Linked DNA regions of Homo sapiens: region 2 is linked to region 1. Evidence: fine-mapped expression QTL. A gene starts in region 1. The other region holds a variant in brackets. All regions are shown on one strand. Distances are between the middles of the regions.

What was found.
Region 2: its variant is fine-mapped to the expression of C7orf78 in nasal epithelium (TOPMed, PIP above 0.99). The same link has a PIP of 0.9 or more in lung.

The regions. Positions count from the first base shown.
Region 1 is chr7:12,502,958-12,505,891 of GRCh38, forward strand. C7orf78 (chromosome 7 open reading frame 78) reads left to right here and starts at 1,484. Exons shown (of 6, transcript NM_001386514.1): 1 at 1,484-1,589. The coding sequence starts at 1,587.
Region 2 is chr7:12,539,509-12,542,442 of GRCh38, forward strand. It overlaps C7orf78 (chromosome 7 open reading frame 78), which reads left to right. Exons shown (of 6, transcript NM_001386514.1): 6 at 1,412-1,762. The coding sequence ends at 1,415. Among named protein-coding and RNA genes, the nearest start is that of SCIN, 30 kb to the right of the region's middle. The variant T/G (reference allele first, on the strand shown) is at 1,420.

The sequences.
Region 1 (2,934 bases):
TCATTCTCACTAAACTATCGCAACAACAAAAAACCAAACACTGCATATTCTCACTCATAGGTGGGAATTGAACAATGAGATCACATGGACACAGGAAGGGGAACATGACACTCTGGGGACTGTTGTGGGGTGGGGGTAGGGGGGAGGGATAGCATTGGGAGATATACCTAATGCTAGATGACGAGTTAGTGGGTGCAGCACACCAGCATGGCACATGTATATGTATGTAACTAAGCTGCACAATGTGCACATGTACCCTAAAACTTAAAGTATAATAATAAACAAATAAATAAAAGAAGGAAACACAAAAGAAAAAAAATATTTATGGGATTTATGAGATAATTGGAAACTTGAATTGTGGATATTCAATAATACCAATGAATTGATGTTCATTTTTTAGATGTCATAATGGTGCTTATGTTTTAAAAATAAAAGTGTTCTTATCTTTTGGGGGTAACATTCTGATATAATTACTGATAAAATATTATGATGCTTCAAAACAATATGGGAAGGGGAAAAAGTTGGAGATATATTTGGGGCAAGTGTGTGAAATAAGATTAGCCATAAAAGGTAATTTTTTAAACTGGATGATGGTTACATGGGGGATTCATTACACAATGTCTACTTTTGTATATATTTGAAGTTTTCTTTCTTTTTTTTTTTAATTATACTTTAAGTTTTAGGGTACATGTGCACAGCGTGCAGGTTTGTTACACATGTATACATGTGCCATGTTGGTGTGCTGCACCCATTATATTTGAAGTTTTCTATTTTAAAAAGTTTTTTTAACTTACCAAGAAATATGTATCTATTGAGTGTAGGTTTTGATTAATAAAAAGGAGGAATTTTCCACATAAATTATGTAGCAGAGGCTGAGTGTGGTAGCTCACACCTGTAATCCCATCAATTTGGGAGGCTGAGGTGGAAGGATTGCTTGAAGCTAGGTGTTTGAGACCAGCCTAGGCGACAGAGCATGACTGTGTTTCTGAAAAAAAGAAAAAGGAAACAAAAAGAAAATTAAGATCTGTAGGTTGAGCCGTAGATTAGAAAGAACTTGTAATCTTTATTTGTTTTAAAAAATGTCCTTTGAAGAAATTAAGTCAACCTTCTTAAGCCCAAGGTGAAAACTGCCTCTCAGAATCATATAATATATCACATGTCAAACTCATATCACTTTATAAAGCAGATTGCTAAGCAATTACAAAAGGTGAGTTCTCAAGACTTAGTAAAACTGATTTGGAGTTCAATTATTCATGTGCTCTCTTTCTGTGTATTTACTGAGTATTGAGCTTGTTGTTGTGCTGATTTTCAACCTTTGGAAATAAAAGCATGAGAGTTATTGCTTTGTTGCTATGTTTTAGGCAACAACCAGAGGCCCTAGTTTTACTTTTCTTTTTCTACTCTGACTTGAGTCTGGTAGAAAATTAATTCGGTTTCTTAGCAACCCAGATGAGCAAAACTTAAATATACTTTAGCTTCTTTTGTAAAGCAAAGGATAATGTTAAACTGTTAGTCTCTCTTGGCTTTACAGAAAAGATTTGCTGAGATATATTACTCTAAAACTTTTATGAAAAGCTATCTTTCAAATGGTAAGTGAAGTAACTGGTTTTCTAATGAATGCTCCTGCCTTTTGTTTTTATTTTGAATTCTTCTTGTTTGTCAAACTGACTAGCTCTTTGGAGCCTATATGTTTTATATGTTAAGGTATATAAGATGAATTCACTTATGAGAAAAGCAATTCATTTATCCATGATATAATAAATAAATAAGAAATTATGAAAAGTATATTAAGAAAGAGAAAGCCCTGCTAAAAGACAGTGTTGAATTTCCCTTTATACAAGTTTACAAATGTGCATGAATATGTGGTCTAAAAAGTTTACTGTGATCACGATAGCAGATTATATTACATTTTTTTATATTGACAACTTATTAAGGTATCAAGTGTATCTGTATCTATTTTTTTACCTATCTACCTCCCAAATTTAATGTTATAAAATTCAAATCATATATCTAGGCAAAGGAACTTTAAATTTGCATATATTTACTAACTAAAGAAATGTATTCCTTTTTTTATTAGCAAATTTAAAAGCAGATAACAAAAATATTTAGTGACTTTCCTGGAGAAAATCTTTGAGGAAGAAATTCAAAAGAATGTTTTTTGTATTGTCACTATTATGGTGAAGTTTTTCTTTATTTAGAAAAAAATATGATTAGATGTTTGGGTTTTACATACAGTTTTCAAAAGGCGAATATAATTTTCACAATTTGGCAAACATAATTATTATGATTGAAATATATAAAATTTGCATTTTTGTAAGGTAGAAAATGGTTGAATAACAATTTCACACAGCTCAATCTAAAACATGGAGAACTATGCATAGAGTTTGTAGAGATAGAAATCCTTGTCTTAATTATTTTATAATCTAATTAGGAGTTGACATAAATAAATTATCCAGGTACAAGTTAAAATGAAGATTTGAACTCCATTGTTGTATTCAGAAAAAGAAAACATAAATCCTGATACAGAGATTTGAAAATGCTTTCATTGGAGGCAGCATTTAAACTGATCCTTGAGGTATAAATATACTATCTTAGGTGGAGAATAACTCTGCTTATTGAATGCAGATAAAGCCATTCTTTTATTTTCAGTGCAACATCTTGGACAACCTATAGGTTTTATAAAAGCAACATTTACTATTAAATCTTTAAATGAGAATATTACTAATTTATTTTTTCCTTAATTTCTCAGTCATATATTTCATAGCTTTGTATTTCTCTAATCTTTAGTTTTTTCCATGTAAAAGGAAAACTATGGTGCACTATTTCATTATTGTCTTCAGTTATTCAAGTAGTTCTCCAGTTGATTATTTCTGCCTGGGAACTACAAAGACATATGTGATTCTGTGATTTATATACAATAGAAGCTTAATTTTA
Region 2 (2,934 bases), 37 kb after region 1:
ATTCCTTAATTTGGACAGAAGAGAGGGTGAGAGTAGTTGGTCTGGCCTATTTACCTTTTAAAAAGCCCCATAGGGATAGAACTTCTAGCAGTTTCTTGATGGTGTTACCAAAACACCAGGGGTTTAGTCTAGGTCCTGCTGCTCACCACACAGAAAGCCAATCACTGAGACAATGAGTATTGCCAAGGAAGAAGTCTTTAATCAGGTGCTGCAGTCAAGGAGATGAGAGCTCAGGCTCAAATCCATCTCTCTAACTGACTAAACCTATGGGTTTATATAACATTCTTCTGTAGAAAGAAATGTAACAATGTGTAAGAAACAGGAACTAGGGAGAGGCAAGGATGCAATCATGATGAATGAGGGCTCCAGGCTTCTCATTGTTAGGATGTCATGATCTGGTGAGTTTCACTTCTTGGATACCTTTTTAAGAGGCCTGAAGGTGCTTTCCTGAGGAAGGAACTCAGATAAAACAAATGTAAGCTTCAAGCTTTAAGAACAGAAAGGTCAATTTCTATGTGTATCAAAAAGAACAGTCTATGGGATTATTGGGTTGGTTTCAATGGAACATAGGAGTTTATATAAAGGAAAACTCTTGTCCATGTGTAAGAAATCAGGAAGTTGGCTTCCTTTGGTTTGAAGGAACCAACCTGTCTCCTAGTTTTAGCTTTGAGGCTTTTCCTCCATTTCAAGGCAACAGGAAACACATCCCATTTCCACATCCTTTAAAAACTTATAGCCCTTCTCTAAAGGAGCTCCTGTCTCCCCTCACCTAAGTGGGAAGCCTCATTGTAACACTTCCCTGCACTATTCTACCCTACTGGTGCTAATACAGAAGGAAAAGTTGAATTGTGTAAGACAGGATGTATTTAGAAGTCCTTAATTTTTGCAGCTTTTAATTGGCATTTATACATCAAACTCAGTAATGTGCAATCATTTTCATAGGCATAACCTCACTCAATTGTCTTCAGACTATGCAGTGTTTAGTCAGGTATTATAATTATTATTATTGTTGTTATAATTTTATAAGCTGGGAAACTAAAGTCTTCACTGGGAATTTAATGTTAACATCACTTATTCAAGATGGCACTCCAAAACACCTTGTACTGTTGCCCTCAGTTGCATGTGCATGCTTTCTGGTAAGTACGAAAAATAAATTTGACCGTTTGGCCAACAGAGTATAGTTCTACTTCCACATCATAGTTGTAGTCATGTTCAACCATTCTTTTTTGTTATCATGCCTTTATAAGCTTGGTTTTAGTTATTTCTGTAGTGAATAAGAGGATTAAGCAAATGACATCTAGCATTTGCAGCCAAGTTTCTTGTCCCAGGAGTGACCTTTCAGGTAAGTCTCACCCTTTATAGAAACTGATTCAGTGAATTCTGTTCACACATTTCTCTTTTGTTCATTTAGATAGCTGA[T/G]GGACCAAAACAGCATAGGGCTTCCTGAACTCTGGCCTGAATGTTCATCTCCCGTGCATTTCCCAGTGAGAACATTGATGAATTCTGGCACCTTCCTGGATTCTACAGAAATCTGCACTCTCCCAGAGGCATGAGAAAGTGCTAAAACAACAAATGAAAGTTGCATAATTTGAAATTCCCTTGTTACCACAGGGATCAGAATCCAATCATAAGGCTTTTGATTTAGTTTGTGAAAGTTAGATCTTGCAACTATGAGTGGAAATGCTGATAATGTGCTTTCTGTTAATGTCCAAAGTTAAAGATGCTCTAGTCTCAGGTAAAGCTAATGTGAGACAAACAACAATAATGCTTACTAATTTTGACCACCATGTTTCTCTAAGGCCAAAGATTGCAAATTTTATCTGTTTGCCTCCTTCATAGAAATAAGAATTCTCTGGATATAGCATATATTCTACTAAAGGATGACTGTTATGCTGTGTGGGAAAGTAGTAGTTAAAAATCAAATATTTTTACTTTAAAAAATAGAGAACAAGGTAGCAACCAGAATTGAAGTCACTGAAATATAAATGGGGCACTTTCCCAGAGGATGTCATCCAAAGACAAAAAAATAGGAAAGTTTAATTCATGACACAGTGAAGTTCTTCTACGGTTTAAATTGTTCCTAGAAATAGATTTTATTTTCAGGAATCATAGGATACCAGATGGTTAGTGATAGTGTTTATTTCTGAAAAAAAAAAGAAGAAAAAGAAAAGAAAAGAAAAAGAGTATATGTATGAGCTTTGTGTTCACATATACAAGGTGGCATAGGTTGAAATAATCAACATTTATTTAGTATGTTTATGGCATATTGAAATCAATATTTGAATCTTCATTTTTCAGTTTTTTCTAATACACTTTAAGAAGCTTCTCTGAGACACTCAAGTATATCAAAAGAGAGAAGATCTCCAAGTAACAGAAATAATAAATGTCCTTCTTAAAGAACACCAGGCTTGGAGAATTTATAGTTCCAACTAGAAGGAAAGGTCTGTCTTTTAACATGTTAAAATAATTTTCTAAATTTTTGTTTAAATATTTTGAGGGAAAGAAAACAAATGACTTGAAACTTCTTTGCTTCTGATCAAGATTTGATGATTATAATTGAAAATTAATAAAAGGGGAGGGTAGGATTTAATGCTATTGCCAGTTTTATCAAATGGATTATCCTATCACCTTTCCAATTTCACTATGAAAACTACTGAAATAAAGGCAAGTACGTATTTAATAGCATTGTTGACATAAGCAACATTAAGTGGAAAGATGAGGCAATGAAATTAAATCATTTCCCAAAGGATATTTTGCATAATTTAAGTTCCCTGGAATTTTAATGTGTAATTCTTGAAAAGAAATGTGCTCTTTAGAAAAAGAAATGCAGCAAATACTGGATTAAATAAATCAGATACCTGAATTTACTCAGGTTATGCGAGTAGAAAGGCTGAAATGCCCCAGGACTTAGTCCTAGGCCTGATCTCTTTCTTA